Linked DNA regions of Homo sapiens. The protein of the gene in region 2 binds, or shares a complex with, the protein of the main gene of each other region. Each region holds a gene or a part of one and is shown on either strand. Other genes may lie near its edges. The genes, in order: IRAK4 and IRAK2.

The links.
Region 1: the proteins of IRAK2 (region 2) and IRAK4 are in contact, whole or in part, in a crystal structure (PDB 3MOP), measured with the Homo sapiens proteins. Residues at the interface, in NP_001561.3 of Homo sapiens: Tyr6, Ile36, Lys44, Met48, Glu59, Trp62, Trp63, Trp64, Gly65, Met66, Arg67, Gln68, Ala69, Gln73; in NP_001107654.1 of Homo sapiens: Asp24, Phe25, Pro28, Gln29, Lys34, Glu92, Phe93, Phe94, Ala95, Pro96, Ser98, Val105.

Annotation. Positions count from the first base shown.
Region 1 is NC_000012.12:43,761,007-43,777,526, forward strand, and holds part of IRAK4 (interleukin-1 receptor-associated kinase 4), read left to right. Parts: intron 1-2,295; exon of another isoform or gene 2,296-2,450; intron 2,451-7,096; 5' UTR 7,097-7,105; coding exon 7,106-7,266; intron 7,267-10,031; exon of another isoform or gene 10,032-10,098; intron 10,099-10,213; coding exon 10,214-10,359; intron 10,360-11,173; coding exon 11,174-11,356; intron 11,357-11,905; coding exon 11,906-12,066; intron 12,067-12,958; coding exon 12,959-13,023; intron 13,024-16,520.
Region 2 is NC_000003.12:10,162,487-10,179,006, forward strand, and holds the start of IRAK2 (interleukin-1 receptor-associated kinase-like 2), read left to right. Parts: upstream 1-2,432; 5' UTR 2,433-2,468; coding exon 2,469-2,562; intron 2,563-15,351; coding exon 15,352-15,534; intron 15,535-16,520. UniProt on the Homo sapiens protein: Binds to the IL-1 type I receptor following IL-1 engagement, triggering intracellular signaling cascades leading to transcriptional up-regulation and mRNA stabilization.

The DNA.
Region 1 (16,520 bases), on a different chromosome or scaffold from region 2:
ATATGCAAAGCATTTTCAATTACTTACTGTTGTGTTGGATCAATGTTCAAGAAAGATATGTTAAGTTTAATTTATGGTACACCAGCACATATCCCAGTTTGTAATAGGCAGCCCTATCTAATTTAATAGCTCTGGAAGCCCTCACCAGCTTTTGTTCATAATGATGATGTTAAAGTATCTAAAAATAAAGATTAATGGTTATACAGCATATTTTGCTAAGAATATATGGAAGTAAATAGTGTATTTTAGAAAGGATATAAATACATTAAAATTACCATGGTTGATCAAATAAGACAGCCACCATCTCAAAAGCTTAGCTATTTTCTCAGACTTGTTATTTGTACGCTTTCAGTAGATCCTCACTACTGTTCTGGAAATTGAACCTAAATACAGTCTGCACATATCTTTAAAAATAATGTGATATAAGAATAATTTCTGCCAGGAAATAATAATTGCTCCTTTTTTTTTTTGACCACCTATTATTATGTGACAAGATTTGGCCCTTTGCATGTGTTGATTTTAATTCTTACAGCAATTCTTAGGTATTACTATCTCTGTTTTTCAGATAAAGAAAAGCAAGGTGCAGAGAAATGTATTTACTAGCTCTGGTCACAGTTGGCTTTGGTTAGAACTTAGGCCTGTGCAACCTCAAAGTTCATCTTCCCTCCACCCCTGCACAATCTTTTCCTCTGATCAAAGTGCTAATGAAGCAGTCTTAAAACTTTATTAACACATTTGACAAGAATCTTTTGCCCTCCTGTTTTGGGCACAGTACTTTGGGAAGGCATTGGATTCCATAAGCAGGTGCTTATTTTAATATATTTCTCAATCACCACCCCACCTTTTACACTTGTCTGAATTGTCTTACTTGAAAATATGAATGGGTTTTCTTTACTATGAGAGTTAGTGGTATGAGGAAACAGTCATGAAGGTATTTACTTATTTGTAAGCAACATATCCTGTTCCACCTGTGTTAATCCTAAGTGTACTAAAGTAAATCTTGAAGAATTTGAAAGAGATGACACTTTTTAAGTTTTTTTTTGCCCAGTCTGTTTTCATTATTGAAAATTCAGAAAAGCAAAATGAAAACAAAACTATCATAAAAGTCATCACCAAGGGATAACCACGTTAATATTTTGGCTTATGTTCTTGTAAGTATGTGGTTGGGAGTGGTATATGAATATACATTTAAAGTAAAATTTTAATTTCTGGGATTTTGAACTTCTGGGCACATGTGTGGAGGAGTTGCAGAAGGCCTTCTTTTTCCTAGTATCCCTACACTTATCACCTCTGCTGGAAGCCTGGGTGCAGGAGAGCTACCAAATTTATCCCTGGCCTTTAGATAGTCTGGGTTTTTTCCTCAATTCCTTGTATTTTGCTCTAATTTATAAGACTACTAAGCAGTTCTATCTTGTCTAGCTTTGTCAATCATGTTGTACCTTACAGTAGAGAGAAATCTTAGTAAGGAAAAATAACTTGAAGAGAGCAACTGCAGAGTCTATAGGCAACCTAGATACAATTTCTTAATTAAAGTTAAAAAGTCATCAGCCTTTCATTCAACACAAATGTTGTGAGTCGTTGCTGAGGTGAATTTGGTTGGGTCCTAGCTCAGGAGAGCACCCATCTAACAGAGAAAGCAAACACATAAACAGTAAAACATAATAATTATTATAACAGAAGAATGACTAGGTGACATTTTGGAGCAAAAGAGATGACAATCAGGGGAAGCTAACAGTGCCTTTTGAATTGGGCTTGAAGGAATAATAGGCATTTACCAGGTGGCCTTTAAGGTATGTGGGCTATTCTTTTACCTGGCCCTAGATGACTTCATTTCCTGTTTCACAGAAAAAATAACAGTATGTGGGAACTCTTCTCCCTTCAAATATATCTGTATTTAAACCTCTGCTTCCTTCTTTCTAGATTCAAAAGAGGTTTCTCTCTATTCAAGGCTGATTTCTTCACCCTATATGCTATTCATTATCCCATTTGTATTGCCAAACAGCTTAAGTCTTAAACCCTTAACACCAACAGTTCTCAAAAGTCTGGTTGGAGTCCCTAATGCTCTTTCAGGAGATTTGTAAGGTCAAAATCATGTTTAGTTAAAAGATTCATTCAGAGTGCAATGGATTTTAATGTTCCAAGTTAATTTATACAGCTTCAGATTCCTCATTGCAGCTTACCTTTAGGAAGTTATTTCTTGTCAAATTTTAGTGTAGTATCAAAGAGAAATATCTACTACTTTGTGAAAAGGCTATTAAAATACACCTTTCTTTATAACTATATGTCTGTGTGAAGCTGGATTTTCTTCATATACATCAACCAAAACAACATGCTGCAGTGGGTTGAGTGCAGAAGCAGATACAAGAATTCAGCTCTCTTCTATTAAGTTAAATATTGAAGAGATTAGCAAAACTTTAAAACAATGTTGTTCTTCTGTTTTTGAGGAAAAGGTAATTATTTTATTAAAATATATATGCTAACATCTATATTTATGATTATTTTAAATGAATTAATAAGTAATTTTTAAGTTTCTCAGCATCAATTTATTATGGTAAATATTGGTAGATATAACCAACATAAACAAAAGCCCTTTGGGGTCTACAATAGTTTTTAAGAGGGTAAAAGGTCCTGAGACCAAATTTGAAAACTGCTACTCTCTTGCATGCTCTCCTCCCTCTCTTTCCCTACCCCTCCACCCCCATTTTCCCTCCCCTCATACTCCTCTCTCTCTCTTTCTCCTTCCCTTCATAACCAGACTTCTTGGAAAATCTGTTTTTGCCATTCACTCACTTTTTCACTATAGCTGTTCCCAAGTCACCAATGGCCTTCTGATTTCAGAGTCTAACATATCCATCAGTGTCTATTTGACCTCTCTGAGTCTTTTATACCAACCTGCCACCTTTTCTAGAAGTCTCTGGTATGCTACCATCCTGGTTTTTTTCTTGCCTTCATGACTAAGCAGTATTTTTTAAAATTCTTCTTTCACATCATTCCTTTCCATTCTAAGCATTCCTAATAGGCAACCTCATTTTATTGTTGCTTCAACTGTATATGTGTATATGCTCTTAATTTGTATGAGGGCATTTCAAAAAGTTTGTGGAAAAATTGAATTAAAAGATAAAAAATGTAAACTTTGGCTCAGCACTATGGCTCATACCTGTAATCCCAGCACTTTGGGAGGCCGAGGTGGGCAGATCACCTGAGGTCAGGAGTTCAAGACCAGCCTGGTCAACATGGCGAAACCCCATCTCTACCAAAAATACAAGAATTAGCTGGGTGTGGTGGTGCACACCTGTAATCCCAGCTACTTGGGAGGCTGAGGCAGGAGAATCGCTTAAACCTGGGAGGCAGAGGTTGCAGTAAGCCAAAATTGCACCACTGCACTACAGCCTGGATGATAGAGCAAGACTCCAAAAACAAAAACAAAACTGTAAACTTTATTTCTGAACATAAGCCCATGAAGTTCAAGACACTTTTGTAAGCGATAACACCAGCCATTTGGGCCATCCCTAAAGAACTGAGAGTCCTGGGAATTTAACCACATCAATGAAGTCTTTTTTACATTATTAACTGAAGAAAAATGGGTGCTCTATGAAGATTTTTCAAGATTGGGAAACAAAAAGAAGTCAGAAGGAGACAAATCAGGACTGTAAGGTGGATGCCTAATGATTTCCAGTTGAAACTCACAGAATTGCCCTTGTTTGATGAGAGAAAAGAGCAGGGGCATTGTGATGGAGAAGGACTCTGTGGTGAAGCTTTCCCAGGTGTTTTTCTGCTAAACATTTGACTAAAGCTGTAACAGAAAAGCTTTAGTTTAGAAACACTTAGAAAAGCTACTGTTTCTCAAAACCCTCTCTAATAAGCAGATGTTACCATTCTTTTTCCCTCCAGAAAGTCAGCAAGCAAAATACCTTGAGCATCCCAAAAACCTGCAGCCATGCCCTTGCTTTTGACTGTCTGCTTTTGCTTTAATTGGACCACTGCCACTTTGGGGGAGCCATTGCTTTGATTGTGCTTTAGGATCATACTCGTAAAGTCATGTTTCATCTCCTGTTACAATTTTTTGAGGAAATGGTTTAGGATCTTCATCCCACTTGTTTAAAGTTTCCATTGAAAGCTCTGCTCGCATCTGCAGCTGATCTGGGTACAACAGTTTGGGCAGCCATCAAGTGGAAAGTTTGCTCAACTTTAATTTTCAGTCAGAATTGTATAGGCTGAACTAGTTGTCTATGGTGTTCACTGTTGGTTCTGCTGTTAATTATAGGTACTCTTCATTTAGGGCACAAACGAGATGAATGTTTTCCTCGAAAATCGATGTGGATGGTCTGCCGCAGCAGGCTTCATCTTCAACATCATCTCATCCCTTAAAATGAGTTACTGATTTGTACACTGCTGATTTTCTGGGGGCATTGTCCCCATAAATAAAGCATCAGTGATTTCACCATTCTTCCAACCAACCTCCACCATAAATGTGGTGTTTGTTCTTGCTTTAGTTTTAGCAGAATTCATGTTGCTGTGGTAGAGGTTCTTTTCAAACTGTCTTATTCTTCTCAGTGTCTCAACTAGATCCTGTTTAGACATGAATGATAAGTTAGTATGAGTTTATTTTGGAAATACATTTTGCAAAAAAAAAAAAATTGAAATCCATGCATGGTTTTTGCACGATATGCATTTTCCATGAACTCTTTGAAAACCCCTTATATATGAGAATACTTACATAATGAGCATTCTTTGCTGAAACCTCTCTCCTAAGCTCCAGACCACATATATAAGTACTTGGTATGAAGGCTCCTAGATAGTGCCAAAGGTAGATATTTCACATTTAACATGAGCCAAAAAAAAAAAAAAAACTTCATTCTATCTCCCTTTCTTCTAATCGCTCATCTCTAGTGAAATTGTTTTGATTTGGCCTCCTAAATGTTTTGACGTTTTACCTCTCCATTCCCCTACCCTATACTTTTTCCAAGCTCTCCTTTCTGCTCACCTGGATTATTGCAGAAGTTTTCAAACTAATTTTCTTGCCTCAATATACATCCCTTTGATTTTTATCCAGAGGAATCCACTTAACCATATAAGATTATTTAACATCCCTCCTAAAAATCCTAAAGTGGCTCTCCTGTAACTTTTAGTTTATAAGTTCAAACTCTTTGTCTTAGCACATGAGGTACATGATGATCTGGCCCTGCTACCTTTCCACCCTCATCTCTTCTCACTTAATCACAGGCATCCTGTGGTCCAGCCATAGCAAGCTCTTTGCCTGAGACACACATGCTCTTACCTTTTCCCATGCTATTCCCTCTGCCTGGAATTTTCTTTTGGGCTTATCCTCATTCCCTTTCATTCATCCTTCCAACCTCCTACTCCAACCAAATCTGTCTTGATATCCCTATTCCAGACTGCCTCTGCTTGATGCCCCTTTTCTGGGCCCCATAACATTCTTGCAGCATTTATCACTCCCTGTCACTGTTTGTATCCCCTGGTATACTGAACAGCTTGGAAACAAAGATTTTCTCTTCTCTGTGCTCCCACTTGTTAGTACAAAGACTGACATAAATATTTTCTGAATGTATTCATGAATGAAAGGAAAGGAATGGTCTTTCTGAAATAGAGAATGGCATGAACAATGCATTGTGTTATAAAAGCAGAGTTGTATGGCATGACTTTTGGAGTCAGACATAATTGTAAGTCCTGGATCTCTCACTTACCACCTTTGTAAAATAGAGATGATAAAACTGTACTGGGAAATAATTTAGTTGTTCCAAAAGTAAATACTGAACAATACCATTATCTACAGTATGCAAGTCACTAGGTGTATATTCATGAATAAAATTAGCATGGTCCTGAACTCATGGATCTTAAAATCGAATATGGGAGACAGTAAACAGGTAAACAAATAAGTATATGATTACAAATACATTGTGCAGTGATGAAAGATAATTAGGTGAAGGGCAGCTAGACCTATTTAGATGTGGTCAAAGAAGTCCAAAGAGAAGAAGTGAATACTAACATAGAAGCCTCTGATACAGAGAAGCTTTTCGCTTTTTACTCTTTTTGATAGTTTTAGAATGTTGTTCCATATGAACACATTATTTACTCTAAAATTGTATTTTTAAAATATATATAGGGAAGCAAAAATAATTGACAGAAGAATATCTGAGTCTATTTGTCTTAATTGGAAGGAAAGATCATTTCCTATTGAGAATGAGGGACACGCAGAACAAATAAAATCCACATAGAAAGAAGTAAAGGTATGAAATAGTCACTAAGGACTATGAGAGAAGACAAGTGGAAGGATTAACGGCAGTGTTGAAGGCCCTGTGGAAAGGGGGTTACCATAAATTTGTATTCACATCAGCAACCCTGGTGTACAAGTAAAGTTGTTAGATTTATCCCTGGCTGCAGCTCTCCAGGATGGAGTAGCAGAAGTAAAGGGGGATTGCAGAAATAAAGATTCTGTCTAGAGAGTAGTTGAAGTGGTGAAGCACAGGTTTTGGCGTAGTAGCAAATGAATTGTGGTCAGGCAGATCTCATGGACTCAAAAAATGTGCAGAGGTCAAGGAAGAGCAAAGTATGTGAAAAGTGGGTGGGTGGACCATATCTGTTAATGCTACACAAATCATTTCAGTACGTTTTTTTTTTTTACTTCTACCAAAGAATGTTGCATAAATTTTAATTGTAAATAAGTACTAATTGAGAAACATAAATTGAAAGGTAAATGTTTTTATTAATAGATTTGATTTCTGAATATGCTAATTCTGATAGTTTGTTGATATTACTCTTAAGAATTTTTCTGGTAAGTTTTTTGCCCCTTTCTATAAATTTTACTAGGAAAATATCAGTGTCAGAAAAAAGTCCTCCGATTTTTATTGCTATTAATGGGTGGAAAAAGGAAGCAAACCCAGAGGATAATTGGACAAATGAATTACAATTTTAATTTCATCTTAGGATATCAATGACTTGACTTTGGAATGTTTCTTTATTATGGTATAATCAGTTGCTGACATTTCATATGATATAGCAAAGTGTGATATATAAGCTTACAGATGTCATCTCTAAAAGTACTGTAAAATTTTAATGAGATTTTTCCATATTTTAGGAATAGAAGATGAACAAACCCATAACACCATCAACATATGTGCGCTGCCTCAATGTTGGACTAATTAGGAAGCTGTCAGATTTTATTGATCCTCAAGAAGGATGGAAGAAGTTAGCTGTAGCTATTAAAAAACCATCTGGTGATGATAGATACAATCAGTTTCACATAAGGTAACAGATAAAATTCTTTGTATTTTTAAATTCTTACATCACAATATGGAATGATTAATTGGTATAAGTACTGTCTAATGTGGCAGTTTAGAAAGTAAACCTCTCCACTATGGAGGAGACATTGGTAGTAGGTAACCTCTTTTTGATTGTTCCTTTTGCAGTTTTGTCTTCTTTGTCCCATATGTCAATAGGGCTAATACTGTGATCTCTCAAATAAGTTTTTTGGGTTAGAATCAAGATTCCCACCTTTGCTGTGGTTCCCTGTTTGGCAAGCCAAGTGAAGTTCACTCTGCCTCACACTTCTCATTTCCAGATTGAAGGAAAATAAGAATGTTACAAGAATGTCTGGTAAAAATCTAGAGCTTAAATTTCAAAGTGTGTGAATCTCTAACACACTCTAACAATGTATTTTGGGACTTTTTCAATTTGACGTTTTAAAGTTGTTGCTTACAAGTGTACACTTCTGTGCACAGAATTCTTAAATCTTAGCTAGGATTTCTCAGTGCTGTCTTCAGATAATTTCAATTTTTCCTTTTTACTCATCTCTGCTCAATTTAGTGTAAAATATGCATGCATATTTTATTTTTGTCAGTCATTGCAGTTAAAACCTATGTCAAAATGTTTCTTTGGTAGCAAAAGGAAAAGAAGACTATTTGTTATTTTCAGCATTAATCTGGGAAAGAACCTAAAAGACTTGGCTCCCTTGCAGGAAATATTTCCTCATAAGAAGAGCGAACATGTTAAATTACTTGAAAGAAGCTTAAGTTTAAACTGTGTTAAGCCAATGTTTAAAGATAATTTTTTGATATTACTGTTAAAAACTTATGGAAGATAATTGGGGCAGTGGTGGCAGGAAGATAAAGCTCTTCTCTTTTTTTTTTCTTTTTTCCAAGACTCATTCCTGTGACAGAAAAAGCTTTTCTTTACAGAATAATACCTGCAAATAATTGTGAAAAGAATGGTAGAATGAGAAAAATACCTATTTGCAACCACCAATGAGTAACTGATTCATGCAAGGCTCATCACTGAACCTAAAAGCATAAGGTGAAAGGTGGTTGTTCTCGTGCATGTGAGCAGGATATGCACAAGATTTTAAAGTATTATAGGCTGAGCACAGTGGCTCATGCCTGTAATCCTAACACTTGTGGAGACCGAGGTGGGCAGATTGCTTGAGCCCAGGAGTTCAAGACCAGCCTGGACAACATGGTAAAACCCCATCACTACAAAAAATTAGCTGGGTGTGGTAGTGCACGCCTGTAGTCCCAGCTACTTGGGAGGTTGAGGTGGGAGGATCACCTGAGCCCAGGAAGTCAAGGCTGCAGTGAGCCATGATCATGCCACTGCACTCCAGCCTGAGTGACAGAGCAAGACCCCCTCAATAGATAGAGAAAAAGTATTGTACACAAATTACTTGTGAAGTATGAAAGAGAAGGGTACATTTTTAATGAGGAAATCTGAAGTACACTTCCTTCACCAAGTGATCAAACTTTAGCACCAATAATAATGGTACAAAATGCTAATATGTACCCCTGGATGTGATACAATGGGAAAGGCACATTATACCTATGTAGTATTTCTACCAAAATGCTTAATCTGAATTTAATCATGAGAAAGTAGTCAGATAAATCTAGGCTGTTAGACCCATTCTATAAGACATCTGGCCCGTATTCTAAAACACACACACCCACAGACACAGATTGAAAGAGAGAATGCACAAGAGCCCAGATATGGCACAATTTTATCAATTATTCAATTGGTGAATCTAGGTGAATGGTTGTTCATTCTATCATTTTTTCAACTTTTCTGTAAGTTTGAAATTTTTAAAAATAAAATCTTTAGAGGAAAAACAGAAAGAAACAATATTGGTTAAATTTTTAAATGTTACTTTTCAAAACTAATTTTTGATTTTAAAGAAATGGAAAGAAATGGGTTGAAAGCCGACTTTGTGATTTTTTTCAATTTAATTGAATTACAGTTAAGATCAAAGGAATAATTTCCTAAGTTTTTGTGTGTTCTGTTTCTTTAATTAAGCAGGTGCATTTATTAAAAATTATATAGCTATCAGAGTCTTAAGTCATGTGGGAAGTAATATTGCTAGTAGATTAAGAATACACTCTTTTGTCAAATGAGATCTGAATTTGTACCTCAACTTGGATACATCATATTGGCTGTGTGGCTATGGGCTGGTTACTCTACCTCTCCAAGCCTGGCTTTTTCACTAGTAAATTCATATGATAATCATAATATCTTTGAACATGCTCATGTGTGTGCATCCTATAACCCACTAAGTAAATATCCAGTAAGTACCCAGTAAATTATTATCATCATCTTTGGCATCTTTTTTCCTCCTATCTTTCCTGTCTCTCTGTAATTCTTGCTGGTTCTCTTGTTGTCCCTTTTCTTTAATGTTGTAGGAGATGCTGTGGGCAAAATGGGCAGGGGAGATCAACACCTATTTTCATATGACCTCAGTTTATAAATGCTATTGTTTGAATGTGTCCCCAAAAGTTCATGTGTTAGAAACTTAATACCCATTGCAACAGGGTTGATAGGTGGGACCTTTAAAGGGTAGTTAGGCCATGAGAGCTTTGCCCTTATGAGTGGATTAATGTCGTCATGGCAGGAGTGGGTTAGTTATCTAGGGAGTGGGTTTCTGATAAAAGGATAAGTTAGGCCCTATTTTTCTTTTTCTCTCTCTCTCTTTTTTTTTCTCTTTCACATGCACGTGTGCATGCTCTTTTGCCCTTCTGCCCTTCCACCATGAGATGATGTAGCAAGAAGGCCCTAACCAGATGCAGCCTCTCGATCTTGGACTTCCCAGCCTCCAGAACCGTGAGCCAAATTAACTATTATTTATAAATTACCCTGTCTGTGGTATTCTATTATTGCAGCACAAAATGGACTAAGACAATAGACTAATTTTGTTTCTTTGTTACTTACTTTTAAGGAGATTTGAAGCATTACTTCAAACTGGAAAAAGTCCCACTTCTGAATTACTGTTTGACTGGGGCACCACAAATTGCACAGTTGGTGATCTTGTGGATCTTTTGATCCAAAATGAATTTTTTGCTCCTGCGAGTCTTTTGCTCCCAGGTAAACTGATTGTGACCAGGGTGTCCACAATTAGGGTGGAAAGACAAATGGCAGAAATATAAATGTTTCTTCTTACTCTTCCTTTTTTCTCATAGTAGATGAAGCTTACATTTGAGAGTCCCTTTCTTTCAGCACTCCTCAACTCTTTAAAAAGCAGCACAGACAAAGGACACTGTGGACTCTGCTGCTAAGGTGATAGAAGCTTCGTAAGAGTTAGATAGTTTTGTGCCAACAGGAAGTTTAGAAGGAAAGACTTCATACTTCTGGCTTAGGCTGTAAGAAAGTAATTATAATTTTGAGTTCTTCCTTTTTTTCATCTTCAACTTCTACCCTGATGGGACTCTATAATCATAATTTTAAAAAATTGTATTCTGATGTGGTAGTGTCTAGTTGCCTTCCTTATAAGCTTTCTTTTTTTCCTTTGATGCCTTTCACACCAGTGGTTCTCAACCTTTATCATGCATAAGAATCACTTAGGTTCTGGTTAAACATGTAGTTTCCTAGGGTCTGTTCCAAATCTATGTAATCAGAATTCTGGAATTGGGTTTAAGGTCTATATTCTTAAACAGGTGCTTCAGTGCCTCTGATATAGGTGGCTCATGGATCACTGTTTGAAAACACTGCCTTACTCTCTTTACCCATCTTCATTATAACTTACAGATTCTTACTAGGCAGCTTCTTGTGTGTGCTGTGAGAATATGAGACCAACCTGTAGAAACTGGAATGATATTAAATGAACCAAGTTTCTAGTTTAACTTTTTCACAACCACTTTTTCTTACTGAAAAACCACTTGTATCTTACTTCATTTGTTAGATGCTGTTCCCAAAACTGCTAATACACTACCTTCTAAAGAAGCTATAACAGTTCAGCAAAAACAGATGCCTTTCTGTGACAAAGACAGGACATTGATGACACCTGTGCAGAATCTTGAACAAAGCTATATGCCACCTGACTCCTCAAGTCCAGAAAATAAAAGTTTAGAAGTTAGTGATACACGTAAGTAACATTTTCAGTGCTTTCCACTAGGGATTTGTCATTAAGACTACCAGTGCTTTAAAAGAAAGCTCTTGCTCTTTTGTTTGTGCAGCAATCACAGGCACACTGGCAATAGCTCTTTTGTGAGTTGTTTCCTCCTGATATATTAAGAACCATCTTCATTGTATTAATCAGTGATTAGAGGCAATAGGACATGCAAACAACCAGAGAAGCTATGAAAAAAAATAAGTAAATATTTACATAACTTGGAAAGGTCACTTTTTAAAATAAAATATGTGACTAGAGTTTTGGGTAGGTAGACTAGACCCACTCAAATGTGTGACTAGAATTTTGGGTGGGTGACTACAGTGTTCAGAGGGTAGGATCACCAAACAGAGTTCTCAAGAAAAACTTATAATTTGTATTTTAGAAATGGTTTTATCTTCTCTCATCTTGTCTAATTCAAAATCATAAATATTTGCATATATGTGAAATCTTCAAATGAGAAAATATTATAATTATTAAAACGAATTTTTAAAATTTAAGCATGTTTTTCTTATTTTGACATAGGTTTTCACAGTTTTTCATTTTATGAATTGAAGAATGTCACAAATAACTTTGATGAACGACCCATTTCTGTTGGTGGTAATAAAATGGGAGAGGGAGGATTTGGAGTTGTATATAAAGGCTACGTAAATAACACAACTGTGGCAGTGAAGAAGCTTGCAGCAGTAAGTTATATTTTCAGGAATAAAAAGAAAGAGTTGCTTCATAGTGTGCCCTATAATAGGTTTTAAAGTTAATCTTTAGGAAATACATTATTTCAGTATGTATTTTCTTTAAATAAACATCATTCTAAATAGTAGTTCTTAAAATTTTAAAATCTGTTGAACACTATGGACCCTACCCCTAGAAAAATGTGGTTATGTCCATGTACACAAGATCATACATACAATTTTGGGAGATTCACAAACTAAAGTTGAGAAGCCCTGCTCCACATAGTGCTTCATGTGTAATCAAGATTAAAATGGTAAGATACCAGGAAAACTATTTTTAAAAAACCTTGTTTGCATTACTTTTCCCATTTAAAAATAAAATTTAGGAAGTATACATTAAGAAAAAACATTAAAATTTTTTTTATCTGTGTCCTTTGTTGCCATTTCTACTGAGGTGTTTACCTTTTACTTACTTGTTATATTCTAAATCTTTTGTTAGAGCCTAAAAATATCAATAGAATGCATATGTATGTGATAAAGATAGTCACTCTTTGTCATATATGTTGCAGGGCTTTTGTAGGGTTTTTTTTTCCATTTTGCACCTAAATTGCTTATGTTTTCTGTTTCCTAGAATTTTTTTCAAATTTTTTTGTGTAGTGAAATTTCGTGTTATTTCATTTTGTTTCCACAACTCAGTGAAATTTATATATATTTTTCATTCCACTAACCAGCCATGGGCCTTGAGCAAATCACTAGTATTTCTAGATCTCAGTTATTCTGTAGAATTGGGAGAATAATACACTATTGTTTTAAAGAAAGGGAGATGAGCCAGCTGATCTCTTGATCCCTCTGAGCATTAGGAACCTTAGAATTGTGTAGTATTACATTGTATATTTTATTTTTTCAGATGGTTGACATTACTACTGAAGAACTGAAACAGCAGTTTGATCAAGAAATAAAAGTAATGGCAAAGTAAGTCTTAATCTGGCAGTGCGGTGTAGTGGAAAGAAAAAAGACAAGGAGTAAAGAACCTGGTTCACTCTAGAGTATGCCATGAACTAGTGATGTTTGCACATATATGAAATTAAAATAAAGTGTTTAGATTAGAGAAATTGAAAGTACTTTTGGCTCCATAATTCTATGATTACATATACTCATATGCCTGGAGATTAAATAGCAGTCATTTTTATTTATTTATTTTTTTTGAGACAGAGTCTCGCTCTTTTGCCCAAGCTGGAGTGCAGTGGCATGATCTCGGCTCACTGCAACCTCTGCCTCCCAGGTTCAAGCGATTCTCCTGCCTCAGCCTCCCGAGTAGCTGGACCTACAGGCGTGTGCCACCATGCCTGGCTAATTTTTTTCTGTATTTTTAGTAGAGACGGGGTTTCACCGTGTTAGCCAGGATAGTCTCGATCTCCTGACCTTGTGATCCACCTGCCTCAGCCTCCCAAAGAGCTGGGATTACAGGCGTGACCACGCCTGGCCGCAGTCATTATTTTAAGTCACAACAAAGTTACGTGAAATTTCACTATCATGTCCTTCATTATCATGTTTTCCACTTCCAGAATTCATGAGAGATCAATTGTAGAGATACTTAAAAACAACTATCTATAGAGTAATAGGCCCTTATATATAAAGTAGCATCTATAGAGCAACTAGAGTCATGTTATCTGTAAGGATGCTTAGAAGGCATTGATCCTGTGTGCTGGAAAATTGTTGGACATCATCAGGAAAAGTAGGAGGGACAAAGTAGGAAATGTATTCTAATTATTATAGTGATTAATAGTGATTGATATTTGAGTGTGTGCAACATGCCAGACATTGTGCTATGTACTTTATGTGCATTGTCTGTCTAACCCTTACAACTGTTACAACTGCCCATTTTGTTTGTTAACTGAGATTTAGAAACATTAAATAGCTTGTCCAAGATCACATAGCCAGTAAGTGTTAGAGATGGGATTGAAATCCAGATCTGTTTGATTGCGGAGCCTGAACTTTAGATCTGAATCGTAATGGGATTTACCAAATTATACCCATTAAACCCACTGCTGTAAATCACCAATCATAGTTACCTAACCTCAAGTAAGAAGAATAGACTAGAATTGATTTATGCACGGTAAAAATGATACATGCTGAAAAAAGATCAAACTTTTTTTTTCAGGATTTGTCTTCTTCACTCCTACCCCTACTCTCCAATTCTAAAAGTAACTTGTTCACAGTAGGTCATCTGGAAAATACAGGAAAACATTTTTAAAATATACAAGCCTATATGCATGCAGGACTTAATACGTAGGTGATGGGTTGATAGGTGCAGCAAACCACTATGGTACACGTTTACCTGTATGACAAACCTGCACATTCTGTACATGTATCCCGGAACTTAATAATACAAACCATCTCTCAAATATATCACTCAGAGATAACCACTGCTAATATTTTTATATACTTGCTTCATGATGTGTGTGTAGCATTTTCCCATGTCACTAAAAATAATTTGAAAACATTTTAAATTATTGTACAACAGTCTAGCATATGTGAAAATCATATTTTATTTAACCATAGCTAGGTTTGTTTCTAATTTTCAGTATTAAAAATAAAGCTTCTTTAAAGTTCTTTGCACATAAATCTTTAAATGCAGTTATACTTACTTTATCATCTAGGGTAAAGTCCTAGAAAAAGAATTACTAGGTAGGAATGCATGAACTTTTTAAAGACTTTCTAAATACACATTCAAATGGCTTTTGAGATAAGTTACTACCAGCAATGTATTACAATTTCAAACTTTACTGGTTCCTTACCTTCATTTAATATCATTACTTTTTTTTTTTTTTTTTTTTTTTTTGAGACGGAATCTCGCTCTGTTGCCCAGGCTGGAATGCAGTGGTGCGATCTTGGCTCACTGCAAGCTCCGCCTCCCAGGTTCACGCCATTCTCCCGCCTCAGCCTCCAGAGTAGCTGGGACTACAGGCGACCGTCACCATGCCCGGCTAATTTTGTTTTTGTATTTTTAGTAGAGACGGGGTTTCACCACGTTAGCCAGGATGGTTTAGATCTGACGTCGTGATCTGCCTGCCTCGGCTGGGAATACAGGCGTGAGTCACTGCGCCCGGCCTATTATTACAATTTTTTAATAAGTGCCAGTCTCTGGATCTTACTAGCAGAATGAACTTGGCCAAGTTTTTTAACTTTCTATTCGTTAATTTTCTCATCTATAAAATGGGACAATAGTACTTACTTAAGTTATTGTGAGGATTAAATAAAACAGATAAATCACTTGCCACACTGCCTCGTTTATAGTATAAATTCAGCAAACGTTAACTACTCATGTTTAAAATGTGCCAGTTTGGTGGAAAATGGGACACTTACTGTTTTAATTTGCACTTCTTCAAATATTTATGAGACTAGAAGAAATTGATATAATGAACTGCTAGAATTGTGGATCATTTTGAATGAACAAAATGAATAAGCACTTAAATAATAAAACACTTATCATGTGCCAGATACGTTTCTAGGCTGTCATGTTTACATTTGCTCATTTAATTGTCTCAGCATCCATATTACATACTGTTTTCTGCATTTAGCAGATAAAGGAGCTGAGGCTCAGTAAGGCTGTTAACTTGCGGTAGGTCACATATCCAGGAGGGGGCAGAACTAGACTTTAAATTTAGGATGTATAACTCTGAGCCCTGTTTTCTTTCGTCTTACCACAGATGCTGCCACTTTATTAGATTGTAGGTCTCTTTAGTTTTATTACTCTCAAGTATATAAAGACACTCAAATTAGGTTATAAATAATCCAGTGTGATTAAAGATCAAAAACATGTAAATTAGATGTGATTCAAGATCATGTCTGTAAATCAGTGCTTTGAGTGTGTTAGAAAATTCTTGACAGTATTAGCATAAAAATTCAACGGACTTCTTGAAATCTTATTTGTGCCATCATTGAAAATTGGGCTAAAGAAAGTGAGCATCAGCCTAGTCCTTAACCAAACTTATCACAAGTTCCAAAAATCTGAATTATTTAGCTTTTACTGTAAAATAGAAAGAGGTTTGGCCAGCTGTAGTGGCTCACACCTGTAATCCCAATACTTTGGGAGGCCAAAGTGGTAGGAGCACTTGAGGCCAGCAGTTTGAGACCAGTCTGGGAAACACAGTGAGACCTCATCTTTACAAAAAAATTTAAAAAGTAGCTGAGTGTGGTGTACACCAGTAGTCCAAGCTACTTGGGAGGATGAGTTAGGAGGATCACTTGAGTCCAGATGGTCGAGGCCGCAGTGAGCTATGATTACACCACTGCACTCCAGCCTGGGCAACAGAGTTAGACCCTGTCTCAAAAAAAAGAAAAAGAGGTTTTACTTCTAATGTTGATTAATACTGGCTGAAAAGAGAAGTATTTGCAGAAAATTATAAACAGTTACAATAAACATATATAAACATAAACATCAAGTTAGAAATAATATATAACATACT
Region 2 (16,520 bases):
TGCCCTTCGTGACCTCGCCTAACCTCTTGGAATCTATTTACTTCTGTGTAAAATGGGGATAATAATATCTATAGTATAGGCTTGTAAGAATGACATAAGATCATTTTTGCAAAGTACATTGTAGATACAGATAAATGTATCTGTATCTACAATATACTTTAGCCAGTGGTGATGGAGAGCCTGGGGTCAGAATACTTAGGTTCAAATGATTTTAGCCATATTATTTAACCTCTCTGTGCCTTAGTTTCCTTATTTGTAGAATGGGGCTATAACCATACCTACCTCAGAGGGTCATTGTAAGGAGTAAGTAAAGTAACCCAGGTGAAGGCTACACATAGTAAGTGCTCAATAAATACTAGCTATTTTATATATGTGTGTGTGTATTTTATATATATATATATATATATATATATATATATATATGTATACACACACTATAAATTCTGTTCCTTGTACCCTCTTTGTTTATTTAGAGACAGGGTCTCACTCTCACCCAGGCTGGAGTGCAGTGGTGCAATCTTGGCTCACTGCAATCTCCACCTCCTGGGCTCAAGTGATCCCCCTACCTTAGCCTCCCAAGTACCTGGGACTACAGGCACATGCCACCATGCCTGGCTAATTTTTGTAGAGACAGGGTCTTGCTCTGTTTCCCAGGCTGGTCTCGAATTCCTGGGCTCAAGCGATCTGCCTGCCTCTGCCTCCCAAAGTGCTGGGGTTATAGGTGGGAGCCGCCGCACCCAGCCCCTTATACCCTATTTAATAATCCAGTTTGTCCTGCAGTCCCCTGCACCATACTCTGCTTTTTTCCCAGTAATAGTATCATCTAAGATAATGCAATTGGCCACTTGCACTCCCTTTTACCACCCTCTACTTTTATTCTTTCTTTTCTTTCTTTTTTTTTTTTTTTTTTTCAGAGACAGGGTCTCATTCTGTCACTCAGGCTGCAGTGCAGTCATAGCTCACTGCAGCCTCAAACTCCTGGGTTCAAGAGATCCTACCACCTTAGCCTCCTGAGTAGCTGGGACTATAGGTGTACACTACCATGCTTGGCTCATTTTAAAATTTTTTGTAGAGGCCAGGCGTGGTGGCTCATGCCTGTAATCCTAGCACTTTGGGAGGCCGAGGCAGGCGGATCACGAGGTCAGGAGTTCAAGACCATCCTGGCCAACACAGTGAAACCCTGTCTCTACTAAAAATACAAAAATTAGCTGGGCGTGGTGGCGCGTGCCTGTAATCCCAGCTACTCGGGAGACTGAGGCAGGAGAATTGCTTGAACCGGGACCTGGGAGGCAGAGGCTGCAGTGAGCCAAGATTGCGCCACTGCACTCCAGCCTGGGCTACAGAGCAAGACTCCGTCTCAAAAAAAAAAAGTTTTTTGTAGAGATAAGATCTTCCTATGTTGCCCAGGCTTCTACTTTCATTCTCCAACATAGCTTATCTGCCTATTTTTATTGCTTGTTGTCTGTCTCCCTCCAGGACAAGGATTTTGTCCTTCTCTTCAGAGGTATTCCCAGCACCTACAACAGTGCCTGGCACATAGTAGCTGCACGATACATATTAGCTACTATAGTAAAGTCTACCTGACTACCCTATTTAATAGAATATTCCCCATGCTCAATCTGAATTCCTGATTCCCTTTAACCAACTTTTTTTCCTTTTTTTTTTTTTTTGCAATAGTGCTTATTACCTTTAAGACACTCTGTAACATACTATATTTATTATTTATTGTTAGTCTTTCTCTCCACACCTAGATTGTAAGTCTTATGAAAGCAAGGGCTTTTGTAGGCTTTTTTTTTTTTTTTTTTTTTTTTTTGAGACAGAGCCTCACTCTTCACCCAGGCTGGAGTACAAGGGCACAATCTGGGCTTACTGCAACCTCCGCCTCCAGGGTTCAAGCGATTCTTCTGCCTCAGCCTCCCAGGTAGCTGGGACTACAGGCGTGCGCCACCGTGCCCGGCTAATTTTTGTATTTTTAGTAGTGACGGGGTTTCACCATATTGGCCAGGCTAGTCTCGAACTCCTGACCTCGTGATCCGTCCGCCTCGGCCTCCCAAAGTACTGGGATTACAGGAGTGATCCACCGCGCCCGGCTGTAGGGTTTCTTATTCAGGTATTACCAACACCTAGGGAGTTGCCTGGCATACAGTAGGTAATTAATGGAGTATTTGATGAGCGCATGATGCATGGTGTAGTGCCGATGGAAGTGGGGTCAGAAGGCCTCCTGCCGCTGCGGCAGAATTCCCGTGTGGCCTTCTCCCACCAGGGCCTCAGTTTCCCCTCGCAGTTCCGATTCTCTGGCCGGCGCTGGGGTGGAGCCGGCGGGGCCGTCGTGCCGCCCGTGGCCGCTGGGGACGCTGGTGCCCTCCCGCCCCGCCCACTTCCCCGCCGGTCCGCCCCTGGCTAGAGAAGCCGCAGCCCGCAGTGTCCGACCCAGTCGTCCCGCGCCGGAGCCGGCCCCGTAGCGTGCCATGGCCTGCTACATCTACCAGCTGCCCTCCTGGGTGCTGGACGACCTGTGCCGCAACATGGACGCGCTCAGCGAGTGGGACTGGATGGAGTTCGGTGAGTGCGGCCCGGGGAGGGGAGGGGACCAGGGCGACCGGAGCCCCCAGCGATCCCGCCTGGAGCGGCCGCCAAGCTCCCTCGGGCACCCGGGTTCAGCGGGTCCCGATCCGAGGGCGTGCGAGCTGAGCCTCCTGGACCGGGTCCGCCGCGGACCTCGGCCTGTCACCTGAAGGTGCCGCGTGGTCTCTGAGGACGTCTGTCGACGAGCAGGGGCCGCCGCCACTGCGCTCTGAGTCCAGAGAACGGTGGGTACGGGGGCCCTCCTGTCAGCGCTGCTGGCTCGGTGACGTCCCCAGGTGGCCTCTCATCCAGCCCACAACAGCCTGCAAAGTGCGAGCCTCGACCCTGTAGGGACCCACGGTGCTGTCACTTCTTGGGGGGGTGTGTGTGTGTGTGTGTGTGGTGTGTTTAGTTTTAGTGTATATTAGAAGGATCTATGATTTAACATATATATATATATTGAAACGGAGTTTCGCTGTTGTTGCCCAGGCTGGAGTGCAATGGCACGGTCTCGGCTCACTGCAACCTCCACCTCTGGGATTCAAGCGATTTTCCTGCCTCGGCCTCCCGAGTAGCTGGGATTACAGGCGCCCGCTACCACCCTGGCTAATTTTTTGTATTTTCAGTAGAGACCGGGTTTCACCATGTTGGCCAGACTGGTCTTGAACTATTTTTTTTTTTTTTTTTTTTTTTTTTTAAGACGGAGTCTCACTCTGTCGCCCAGGCTGGAGTGCAGTGGCGCGATCTAGGCTCGTTGCAAGCTCCGCCTCCCGGGTTCACGCCATTCTCCTGCCTCAGCCTTCTGAGTAGCTGGGACTACAGGCGCCCGCCACCACGCCCGGCTAACTTTGTATTCTTAGTAGAGACGGGGTTTCACCGTGTTAGCCAGGATGGTCTGGATCTCCTGACCTTGTGATCCGCCCACCCTGGGCCTCCCAAAGTGCTGGGATTACAGGCATGAGCCACCGCGCCCGGCCTCCGGAACTCTTGATCTCAGGCGATCCACCTGCTTCGGCCTCCCAAAGTGCTGGGATTACAGGCGTGAGCCACTGTGCCCAGCCTATTTATCATATTTGTGATTAAATGTACTTTACCATTATAGTTTTAAAATCAGATATTTACTTTTAGTGTACATTGTTTTGATCACAGTATTTATGACTATCAACCTGTTTTGAGATCAGATGTGTCCTAATAGATTCAGTGTGTATAATGGGGCCTAAGCACAAGCACTTACTTTCACTCTATTGCAAGGTGCACAGTTCTAGATAATTCCGTGGGAAGGCACTCAGACAGCCTCCATATGTTTTGTTTGTTGGTGCCTGACGGATGACTGGCGGAGAGGGCCATGGACTCTGCGGGGAGGCCGCTTGCCTGTTGTCTCTGCTTTCCAGGTGGAGATCTGCATTCCAGGCTCTTGCTGTATGACTTTGGGCCAGTTTGTTAACCTCTCTGAGCCTCAGCTTCTGAATCTGTATGTAAACTGGAGATGATAATTATAGCTTCTTCATAAAGTTGTGAGGAATGAAAATACTGTATAAAAGCACTGACACCTAAGTGTTAAATATTCTTATAAGTCATAAGTTGTAATATTCTCTTTTCATTTTTATTTTTTTGAGACAGTCTCATTCTGTGGCCCAGGCTGGAATGCAGTGGCGAGATCTCGGCTCACTGCAGCTTCCGCCTCTTGGATTCAAGTGATTCTCTTGCCTCAGCCTCCCGAGTAGCTGGGATTACAGGCATGTGCCACCACGCCCACTAATTTTTATGTTTTTAGTAGAGATGGGGTTTCGCCATGTTGGCCAGGCTGGTCTCGAACTCCTGACCTCATGTGATTTGGCCGCTTTGGCCTCCCAAAGTGCTGGGATTACAGGCGTGAGCCACTGCTCCTGGACCTGGCTTCACTACTTTGAATGTTTCCTGGGCAGTGAACAAACTTTGTGTGAGACTCCCTCTCATTTTTTCCACATTGGCCCAGCCCTCAGTTACAAATGCCAGAACAACTTCTGTTTCTAGGAAATTCAATTAGAAGGCATACCTATGACTTAAAAAAAAAATAAAGCTTTACTGAGATATTCACATACCATACAATCCACCTGTTTCAGGAGTACAATTTAGTGGTATTTAGTATATTCACAGGGCTGTGTATCCATCTTCACAATCAATCTTAGAACATTTTAATCACCCGAAGAAGAAACTCTGTACCCGTTAACTTCCAATCCCCTCCTTCCATTTTCCTGAGTTTTAGACATTGCCTATTTTGGACATTTCATATAAATGGAATCATATAATATATAGTGCTCTGTGACTGACTTGTTTCAACTAACATGAGGTTCATCCATGTTGTAGCATGCGTCAATACTTAGTTTCTTTTTTTTTTTTTTGAGACGGAGTCTCGCTTTGTCACCCAGGCTGGAGTGCAGTGGCGCAATCTCGGCTCACTGCAAGCTCCACCTCCTGGGTTCATGCCATTCTCCTGCTTCAGCCTCCCTAGCAGCTTGGACTACAGGTGCCTGCCACCATGCCCGGCTAATTTTTTTGTATTTTTAGTAGAGATGGGGTTTCACTGTGTTAGCCAGGATGGTCTTGATCTCCTGACCGTGTAATCCACCTACCTCGGCTTCCCAAAGTGCTGGGATTACAGGCGTGAGCCACCGCGCCCAGCCAGTTTCTTTTTATTGTAGGATAATGTTCCATGGTATGGATATACTACATTTCATTCATTTATCAGTTGTTGGGCATTGGGTTCTTTTCACTTTTGGGCCATTGTGAATAGTGCTGCTGTGAACACTCACATACAAGATTTTGTGCAGTGGTGCAAATGTAGCTCACCGCAGCCCCAACTTCCTGGGCTCAAGCGATCTTCCTGTCTCCTGAGTAGCTGGACTACAGGTGTGCACTGCTGCACCCAGCTAACTTTTGTATTTTTTGTAGAGACAGGTTTCACCATGTTACTCAGGCTGATCTTGAACTCTGGAGCTCAAGCGATCTGCCCATCTCACCTTCCCAAATTGCTGGGATTACAGGTGTGAGCCACTGCATCTGGCTTTATGTTTAACTATTTGAGGAGCTACCAGATGTTTTCTAAAGTGGCTGAACCACCAGTGTATGAGGATGACCATTTCTCCACATCCTTGTCAACATGTGTTATTTTTTTCTTTTTTTAATTTTTTTTTTTTTGAGACAGAGTCTCGCTCTGTCGCTGAGGCTGGAGTGCAGTGGCATGATCTCGGCTCGCTGCAACCTTAGCCTCCTGGGTTCAAGCGATTCTTGTGCCTCAGCCTCCCAAGTAGCTGGGATTACAGGCATGCACCACCGTGCCTGACTAATTTTTGTATCTTCAGTAGAGACAGGGTTTCACCGTGTTGGCCAGGCTGGTCTCAAACTCCTAACCTCAGGTGATCTGCCCGCCTCGGCCTCCCAAAGTGCTGGGATTACAGGTGTGAGCACCATGTCCGGCCTTATTGTTGCTTTTTTGATGGTAGCCACCTGAGCCAGTGTGAAGTGGCATCTTACTGTGGTTTGATTTGCATTTCCCTAATGACTAATGCTGTGGAGCATCTTTTCCTGTGCTTGTTGGCCATTTGCACATCTTCTTTGGAGAATACCTCTGCGAGGCTCCCCACTGGGATGGATATGATCTGAACACCTTGCCAGGCATGTTGACTCTGACACATCTGCCCAGTGCTGGCCTCTCTGACCTCCTCTTCTTCCACACCCACTGTCACTCCCCTGCTCCAGCCACACTGACCTCCCTGGGCCAGACACAGGGTCTTTGCAGGTGCTGTTCCCTCTGCCTGGGACGTTCTTCCCCCTGTGTTACCTGGGGCTAGCTTTCTAGTCTATTAGTTTCCTCCTGTTGCAGTTATAGATTACTACAATATCAGGGGAACCAGCCCGCAGTATTTCAATGTAGGTTCTTTTCTATTTTCCCTAAGTGTCGGCCGGTCTGAGAAATAAAGAGTACAAAGAGAGAAATTTTACATCTAGGCCTCTGGGGGTGCTGTTACACATTGGTAGGACCGTGATGGTGACCCCGAGCCACAAAACCAGCGAGTTTTTATTAGGGATTTCAAAAGGGGAGGGGTGTACGAATAGGGAGTAGGTCCCAGAGATCACATTCTTCAAAGGGCAATAAAAGATCACAAGGCAAAGGTGAAATTAGAATTACTGGTGAAGGTCCATGTCCCACTGGGCACGCATTGTCTTGATAAACATCTTAACAGGAAACAGGGTTGGAGAGCAGACAACCCGTCTGACTAGAATTCACCAGGCTGGAATTTCCCAATCCTAGTAAGCCTGAGGGCACTGCAGGAGACCAGGGCATATTTCATCCCTTATCTCAACTGCATCAGACAGACACCCCCAGAGTGGCCATTTATAGACCTACCCCGGGAATGCGTTCCTTCCCCAGGGTTATCAATTATTAATATTCCTTGCTGGGAAAAGAATTCAGCGATATTTCTCCTACTCACACGTCCATCTATAGGCTCTCTGTGAGAAGAAAAATATGGCTCTATTCTGCCCGACCCCACAGGCAGTCAGACCTTATGGTTATCTTCCCTTGTTCCCTGAACATCACTGTTATTCTGTTCTTTTTCAGGGTGCCCTGATTTCATATTGTTTAAACACCCACGTTTTACAATCAGATTTCATATTTTTCAAACACACGTTTTACAAACAATTTATACAGTTAATGCAATCATCACAGGGTCCTGAGGTGACATACATCCTCAGCTTATGAAAATGATGGGATTAAGAGATTAAAGACAGGCATAGGAAATTATAAGAGTATAAATGTCCATAAAATCTTCACAATTTATGTTCAGAGATTGCAGTAAAGACAGACGTAAGAAATTATAAAAGTATTAATTTTGGGAACTGATAAATGTCCATGAAATCTTCACAAGTTGTATTCTTCTGCCGTGGCTTCAGCCGGTCCTGTTCGGGGCCCCTGACTTCCCACAACACTACAAAGTTGGTGGCCTGTAACACCTCAAGTTTATTATCTCAGCATTCTGGAGGTCAGAAGTCCTAACTCAGGGTGGCTCTAGGGAGGAGTCGGTCTCCTGGCCTTGACTGGCTTCCTGAGGCCTGCAGCATCCTGTGGCTTATGGCCCCTTCCTCCATCATCAAGGCCATGGGTGTGTATCATCACATCTGTCTCTGTGACTTCTGCTTCTACCATCACCTCATCTCTGAATCTGATGTTCTGGCCTCCCCCTTACAGGGACCCTGGTAATTACCTTGGCCAGACCCAGAGAATCCAGGATAATCTCATCTCAGAATCCTTGATTTAATCTAACCTGCAAAGTCCCTTTTGCTATGTAAGGTACCATATTCACAGGTCTCGGGGCTTAGGATGTGGATGTTTTCCAAGGGTATTATTCTGTCTGTCACAGTCCTTCAGGTAAGCTCCTGTGGCACCTCTTTGAAATCAAGAGGACTTTCCTGCCCCTGTTCCTCTCTAGCCCATCACCGTGTTTCATTTCCCTCATTCCGCTTCACAGCCTTTGATGTCCCCTCGTTCCTGAATTTTTTCCACCTGTCTCTCCCTATGGAATGGAAGCCCCGTGCGGGCAGGGGCCTTACCTGTCTAGTTTTTCACTGCTGTATTCCCAGAGCCTGGGACAGTGCCTGGCTAGAGGGCAGGTGCCAGAATGAATGATGAGCTGCCAGGCCTTGGTGTGGTGAGGATGCGGGCTGCCCACTCTTACCCATTGGAGCTGGCCTGGAGCCTTTGGTCAGCCCACTTCCTACACTGGATCAGAGCCAGCGGTGCCTCCGGCCCACTGCTCCTCGCCCAGTCCCAGTGCTCCAGTTCCCTCTTCAGCTGAATGAACGAGTGACTGTGATTGACCCTTCAGTCCTAAAAATTCTTGGCTTCCTGTGGGTCATTTTAGAAAGAAGACAGTCCCTCAGAGCTGATGGTGATACTGGGAGAGTGTAGTGAGAACGCTAAAGTGATTCAGAAGATCCCGCAGCCACAGACAGCCACGCTCTTTCAGATCCGACACTTGTTGGCAGATAATCTGGCCACGCCTAGTTCTTGTCTCCGTGATGGCAGCTGCCTCTGTTGGGCTTTGCCTGAGCCTGTGTAAAAAGGGTTTCCTACAGCTTCAGCCCCAGGTGTGTGCAGAGGGGCTCGGCGCAGGGGCTCTTCTGTGTGTGGCCGTTCCCCGTCTCGTTCACTCATGCGTGTGCCAGCCTTTGTGCACAGCCCTGCTTTGCCCTGCCCAGCTGTGTGACATCAGGCAGGTGACTATCTCTCTCTGAGCCTTTAGTTTCCTCATCCATGAAGCACCCTCACAGTGTTGCTGAGAGGCTTAGGAGACTCAGCTTATTGTAAAGGGTCAAGTTAGGGCTTTCCTCATCCCCCACCCAGGGAGGGGTGTGGGCATTCGATTCTAAGATGGGTCATTTCAGGAGGCTGTGCCATCCCTGCTGTGGAGGACTTTGAAGACAGGCAAGGTTTTCTACTGCCTCGGGTGAACTCCTGCAGGATTCAGGAACTCAAGAGTGATAGTCCCTGTACTGTTAATCATCAGGGATAAAAACATTTTCAGGCCAGGTGCAGTGGCTCACGCCTCTAATTTCAACACTTTGGGAGGCCTAGGTGGGAAAATTTCTTGAAGCCAAGAGTTTGAGACCAGCCTCGTGATCCGCCCGCCTCAGCCTCCCAAAGTGTTTGGATTACAGGCGTGAGCCACTGCACCCAGCCTTTTTTTTTTTTTTGAGACGGAGTCTCACTCTGTTGCCCAGGCTGGAGTCCAATGATGCAATCTCAGCTCACTGCAACCTCGGCCTCCTGGGTTCAAGTGATTCTCCTGCCTCAGCCTCCAGAGTAGCTGGGACTACAGGCGCCCGCCACCACACTCTGCTAGTTTTTGCATTTTCAGTAGAGATGGGCTGGGCGTAGTGGCTCACGGCTGTAATCTCAGCACTTTGGGAGGCCAAGGTGGGAGGACCACGAGGTCAGGAGTTCGAAACCAGCCTGGCCAACATGGTGAAACTCTGTCCCTACTAAAAATATGAAAATTGGCCAGGTGCGGTGGCTCATGCCTGTAATCCTAGCTCTTTGGGAGGCTGAGGTGGGTGGATCATGAGGTCAGGAGATTGAGACCATCCTGGCTAACACAGTGAAACCCCGTTTCTACTAAAAAAAAAAATTAGCCGGGCATGGTGGCAGGCGCCTGTAGTCCTAGCTACTCAGGAGGCTGAGGCAGGAGAATGGTGTGAACCTGGGAGGTGGAGCTTGCAGTGAGCAGAGATCGCACCACTGCACTCCAGCCTGGGCGACAGAGCGAGACTCCGTCTCAAAAAAACAAACAAACAAAAAATTAGCCAGGTGTGATGGCACTCGCCTGTAATCCCAGCTATTCGGGAGGCTGAGGCAGGAGAATTGCTTGAACCTGGGAGGTGGAGGTTGCAGTGAGCTGACATGTGCCATTGCACTCCAGCCTGGGCAACAAGAGTAAAACTCCGACTCAAAAAAAAAAAAAAAAAAAAGGCCGGGCGCGGTGGCTCATGCCTGTAATCCCAGCACTTTGGGAGGCCGAGGTGGGTGGATCACGAGGTCAGGAGTTTGAGCCCAGCCTGGCCAACATAGTGAAACCCCGTCTCTACCAAAAATACAAAAATTAGCTGGGCATGGTGGCACATGCCTGTAGTCCCAGCTACTCGGGAGGCTGAGGTAGGAGAATTGTGTGAACCCAGGAGGTGGAGGTTGTGGTGAGCCAAGATCGCGCCACTGCACTCCAGCCTGGGCAACAGAGCGAGACTCTGTCTCAAAAAAAAAAAAAAAAAAAAAAAAGTAGAGACGGGGTTTCATCATGTCGGCCAGGCTGGTCTCAAACTCCTGACCTCGTTATCCGCTTGCCTTGGCCTCCCAAAGTGCTGGGATTACAGGCGTGAGCCACCGCACCTGGCCAAACTCTATGAAAAACAGGTTTTCATAGAATGTAGATAGTTTAACACTTACAGCTAATACTTATATCATGTTTATTGTGTGTTAAGCACTGTTCTGAGTGCTTCTGTACATAGAACTCATCTAATCCTTGCAACAATCTCGGAGGCAGGTGCTGCTGTTATCCTTGTTTGACAGATGAGGAAACTGAGGCTCAGGGGGAGATGAACACCTTCCCCAAAAACACAGCAAGTAAGCAGCAGAGACAGGATTTGAACCCAGGCCCCGAATCCCAATATCTGGCCTCTGAACCACCACTACTGTCCTGCTGACTTTCGCACATGTTTTCATATCTGTAGAAAAAGTCTGGAAGATTAGACACCAAAATGTAACTGGTGGTGTCCTTGGAGTCCTCCAAGTGGGATAATCATGGGGACTTTCATTTTCTTGTTTCCCAAATATTCTACGATGACCAGCTATTACCTGTCCATGCTGAGAAAAAAGCTGCAGCTTAGCAGAAGGCCTTGGTAGTGACTCATCCCCTCAAGATCTCTATCATGTCCCGACTCTAAAGGGTCTGGTTGAGACTGGGTACGGTGGCTGATGCCTGTGATCCCAGCTCTTTGGGAGGCCAAGGAGGGTGGATCACTTGAGCTCAGGAGTTTGATACCAGCCTGGCCAAGATAGTGAAACTCCATCTCTACTAAAAATACCAAAAAATTAGCCGAGAGTGGTGGCACATGCCCTGTAGCCCCAGCTACTTGGGAGGCTGAGGCAGGAGAATTGCTTGAACCTGGGAGGCATAGGCTGCAGTGAACTGAGATCACGCCACTGCACTCCAGCCTGGGCAGCAGAGCAAGACTCCGTCTGAAAAAAACTAAATAAAATAAATAAAGGGTCTGGTTAAATGCTGATTGGTCAACACCTTAAGATATGGCACCGTCATGGAACAAAAATGTCTAAGCTGGAAGGCACCTTAGAGTTTAATTCCTGTTTCTCTTGTATTACCATCACGAGTAAGGAAAGTTCAGCCCACAGAGAGTCAGGCTGTGGCTGAGTTCCTGCTGCCACCCACGAGGGGTGGCCCTGGGCTTCTGTTTTCCCATTACGTCATGCTGCCTCCCAAGATGGGAGTGTGTGTGGATGACCAATGCTTCGTGGGGGGAGATGGTCCTTCCTTTTCCATCCGTTCTCTTCTCTGTATTGCTAGAAGCAGCCGCTGACCCAGCTGACATCACTTCCCACTGACCAGCAATCTGGCCTGGGGTTTCCAGTGACTAACATAGCAATTTAGGAACTTTCCATCTTAATTGGGCACTTCTCCTGGAGGCTTTCTGTGTGCAGGAGACTGTCACCAGCCCATTTTGTCCAAAGGGTAGGGGATTGTGCAATCTGGTCACAGCACTCACTGGCTCTGAAATTTTCTGTGGTCCCTTGTAACTCTTAGGATCAAGTCCAAACTCCAAAGCTGGGCATTCACTTGAGGGTCTTTGTTATGTGGTCCTGGGCTTCATCTCTTGCCTTCCCTTCTTCTACTCGGCCCACCTATGTTTATATATTTTTTTGTTTTGTTTTGTTTTATTTTTTTGAGATGGAGTCTCACTCTGTTGCCCACGCTGGAGTGCAGTGGCGTGATCTCGGCTCACTGCAACCTCTGCCTCCCGGGTTCAAGTGATTCTCCTGCCTCAGCCTTCCACGTAGCTGGGACTACAAGTGGGCACCACCACGCTTGGCTAATTTTTGTATTTTTAGTGGAGATGGGAGTTCACCATGTTGGCCAGGCTGGTCTCGAACTCCTGAACTTAGGTGATCCGCCCACCTCAGCCTCCCAAAGTGCTGGGATTACAGGCATGAACCACTGCACCCGGCTGATTACTCCTAGTTTTAATAAAAATGCCTTTCTCACTTCAGTAAACCAGTGGAATACTGGTCATAAAAATCCATTTATGGGCCAGGCACAGTGGTTCATGCCTGTACCAAAAAAAAAAATTAGCCAGGAATGGTGGTGTGTCTGTCATCCCAGCTGCTGGGGAGGCTGAGGTGGGAGGATTGCTTGAGCCTGGGAGGCCAAGGCTGTGGTGATCCATGTTTGCACCACTGTACTCATGCCACCTGGGCAACAGAGTGACACCCTGTCTCAAAAAAAAAAAAGATTTTTAAATTTTTATTTATTTTTAATTTTTATATTTTTGAGACTCAGTCTCTGTCGCTCAGGCTGGAGTGCAGTGGCACGATCTCAGCTCACTGCAACCTCCACCTCCTAGGTTCAAGTGATTTCTCCTACCTCAGCCTCCCGAGTAGCTGGGAGATTACAGGCGTGTGTTACCACACCTGGCTAATTTTTGTATTTTTAGTAGAGACGGGGTTTCACCATGTTGGCCAGGCTAGTATCGAACTCCTGACCTCAGGTGATCCACCTGCCTCAGCCTCCCAAAGTGCTAGGATTATAGGCATGAGCCACTGTGCCCAGTCCCTGTGGTATAATGTTAATAAATAAGACCAGGATGCAGAATCTCAGGTGAGGCATGGTGGCTCACACCTGCAATCCCAGCACTTTAAGAGGTTGAGGTGGGAAGATTGCTTGAGGCGAGGAGTGCGAGAGCAGCCTGGGCAACATAGTGAGACCCCATCTCTTAAGAAAAGGTACAAAATCAGCTGGGCACGGTGGCTCACGCCTGTAATCCCAGTACTTTGGGAGGCCGAGGCAGGCGCATCACAAGGTCAGGAGATTGAGACCATCCTGGCTAATGTGGTGAAACCTGGTCTCTACTAAAAATACAAAAAAATTAGCCAGGCGTGGTGGTGGGCGCCTGTAGTCCCAGCTACTCGGGAGGCTGAGGCCGGAGAATGGCCTGAACCCGGGAGGCGGAGCTTGCAGTGAGCTCAGGAGTGCACCACTGCACTCCAGCCTGGGTGACAGAGCGAGACTCCGTCTCAAAAAAAAAAAAAAAAAAAAAAAGAAAAGATACAAAATCTTACCTGCAGCGTGGCAACAACTACATCCAAAGACACATCTATGTAGAGGGGGTGATTTTTGGAAAGGGGAAGTACCCTAATGGCCTTAGGAGGGTGGTGAGATGCTGTGTAACTTTTCCCCCTGTATTGTCCATGTTTTTTTTTTTTTTTTTTTTTTTTGGTGAACAACCATCAATTTTATGGTAAAACACCAAAAGAAAGAATGCATTATTTTTATTGTTACTAGTGGTAGCTCCCTGCAAGTTTTGTCCCATACTTCAGAATTGGCAAAGTATTTTTGTATCCATGGCTCTCTGATCCTTATAACAGTTCTGTGAAGACGATGTGGTATGTGTGTGTGTTTTCATTCAGTCATTCACTTAGCATATCTTTTTTGTTGTTGTTTTTGGAGACAAGGTCTTGCTGTGTTGCCCAGGCTGGAGTGCAGTGACATCATCGTGGCTTGCTGCAGCCTCCAACTCCTGGGCTCAAGTGATCCTCCCATCTCAGCCTCCTGAGTAGCTAGGACTACAGATGCATGCCACCATGCCTGGCTACTTTGTTTATTTATTTATTTATTTATTTTGAGACAGAGTCTCTCTCTGTCTCCCAGGCTGGAGTGCAGTGGCGCGATCTTGGCTCATTGCAAGCTCTGCCTCTCGGGTTCATGACATTCTCCTGCCTCAGCCTCCCGAGTAGCTGGGACTACAGGTGCACGCCACCACGCCCGGCTAATTTTTTGTATTTTTAGTAGAGACGAGGTTTCACCATGTTAGCCAGCATGGTCTCAATCTCCTGACCTTGCGATCTGCCCGCCTTGGCCTTCCAAAGTGCTGGGATTACAGGCGTAAGCCACTGCGCCTGGCCTACTTCGTTTATTTTTTGTAGAGACAGGGTCTTTTTTTTGTTTTGAGATGGAGTCTCGCTCTGTCGCCCAGGCTGGAGTGCAATGGCGTGATCTTGGCTCACTGCAAGCTCCGCCTCCCAGGTTCACGCCATTCTCTTGCCTCAGCCTCCCGAGTAGCTGGGACTACAGGTGCCCGCCACCACGCCCGGCTAATTTTTCTATTTTTAGTAGAGACAGGGTTTCACCGTGTTAGCCAGGATGGTCTTGATCTCCTGACCTTGTGGTCCACCTGCCTCGGCCTCCCAAAGTGCTGGGATTACAGGTGTGAGCCACCATGCCCGGCCTACTTTGTTTATTTTTTGTAGAGACAGGGTCTCACTATGTTGCCCAGGCTGGTCTTGAACTCCTGAGCTCCAGCAATCCCTCCTTGGTCTCCTAAAGTATTGGAATTACAGCTGTGAGCCGCTGCACCTGGCCTCATACACTTGTTGAGTTCCCCTGACCAGGACTGGGACTTAGCTGAGAGGAATGAGATGCCCAGGGCAAAATGTAAGGAGGCGCTGATGCTCAGGGTCCTGCGGTGCCACCTGAAGATGAGCGCCTCCTGCATTTTCCTTCCCTAGGTGCCTCACCTGACTCACCCTCATCCTGGCCCCACCTCCACTCTGAACCAGGCACTATTCTCAATTCTGGGGAAGTAACAGTGAACCAAACAGGTAGAGCTCCCTGCCTACACGGACCTTCCATTATAGAAGGGGAGGCAGGCAGAGCTAGTACCCACTGAGGCTCCCACGGGCGCAGTGACTGCCCCAGGCATAGCAGCAGCCAATGCTCAAGGCTTTGACCCTCCTGTCCCGTGGTCTTTCTCCTAAGTCATATGTACTGGACCCCATGGGTGCCCAGCAGAGTCAGCGTTGTAACTTGGGCCACCTGTGGACCTCAGCTAATGGTGGTGTTTCCAGTGTGGAGGCGGTGGTTGGGGAGGATGTCCTGGAAAAGCCCAGCTAGGGGCTAGTGTGGGGACCTGTCCTAGAGGGACTGCCTCTCTGACTCTAAGCAGAGTTCTCTCCGTCCCTTCCAGCCTCCTACGTGATCACAGACCTGACCCAGCTGCGGAAGATCAAGTCCATGGAGCGGGTGCAGGGTGTGAGCATCACGCGGGAGCTGCTGTGGTGGTGGGGCATGCGGCAGGCCACCGTCCAGCAACTTGTGGACCTCCTGTGCCGCCTGGAGCTCTACCGGGCTGCCCAGATCATCCTGAACTGTGAGTAACTCAGGGCCCTCCTTGAGTGGGGCCCATCACGCTCCTGAGCAGTTTCCATCCGTGTGAGTTGCACTCTCTGGCCTTAATACTTTTTTCCTCTTTTAATTAAAAAATTTAATGAGTGAGTTTACCATGCACATAAGAAACTGGTAACAGGCCAGGTGCGGTGGCTCACGCCTGTAATCCCAGCACTTCCGGAGGCTGAGGTAGGTGAATCACCTGAAGTCAGGAGTTTGAGACTGGCCTGGCTAACATGGTGAAAACCCGTCTCTACTAAAAATACAAAATTAGCTGGGCTTGGTGGCCTGCGCCTGTAATCCCAGCTACTCAGGAGGCTGAGGCAGGAGAATCGCTTGAACCTGGGAGGCGGAGGTTGCAGTGAGCCAGGATTGCACCACTGCACTCCAGCCTGGGTGACAGTGAGACTCTGTCTCCAAAAGAAAAAAAAAAAAGAAACAAAAAAAAGAAACTGGTAACAGTGGTTACCTGTGGGGAGAGGAACTGGGCTGCCAGAGAACACAGTATTGGAGGGAGACTTTACTGTAAATTATTTCATACCTTTTAAATTTGGGCTATCTGTTCCAAAAATAAATACATTAATTAATTTAAAAAACCCCAATAGCTATAACAAAAATTCAAAAAAGCATGCAGCAAAAATGATTCATATTGCTTCTTTTCCCCACTTTACATCCCAAGAAGTAATGATTGGTAAAAATTTCTGGCTTGTCTTACTAGAAATTTTCTCTGCATGGGCAAGGGTATTATATATCTGCAATTCCTTTTTTAAAAACTTTTTTTTTGAGACAGGGTCGTGCTCTGCTGCCCAGGCTGGAGAGCAATAGTGTGATCAAAGCTCACTGCAGCCTTGATGTCCTGGGCTCAAGTGTCCTCCTGCCTCAACTTCCTGAGTAATTGGGACTATAGGCACATGCCACCATGCCTGACTAATTTTTCATTTTTTTGTAGAGATCCAGGCTGGTCTTGAA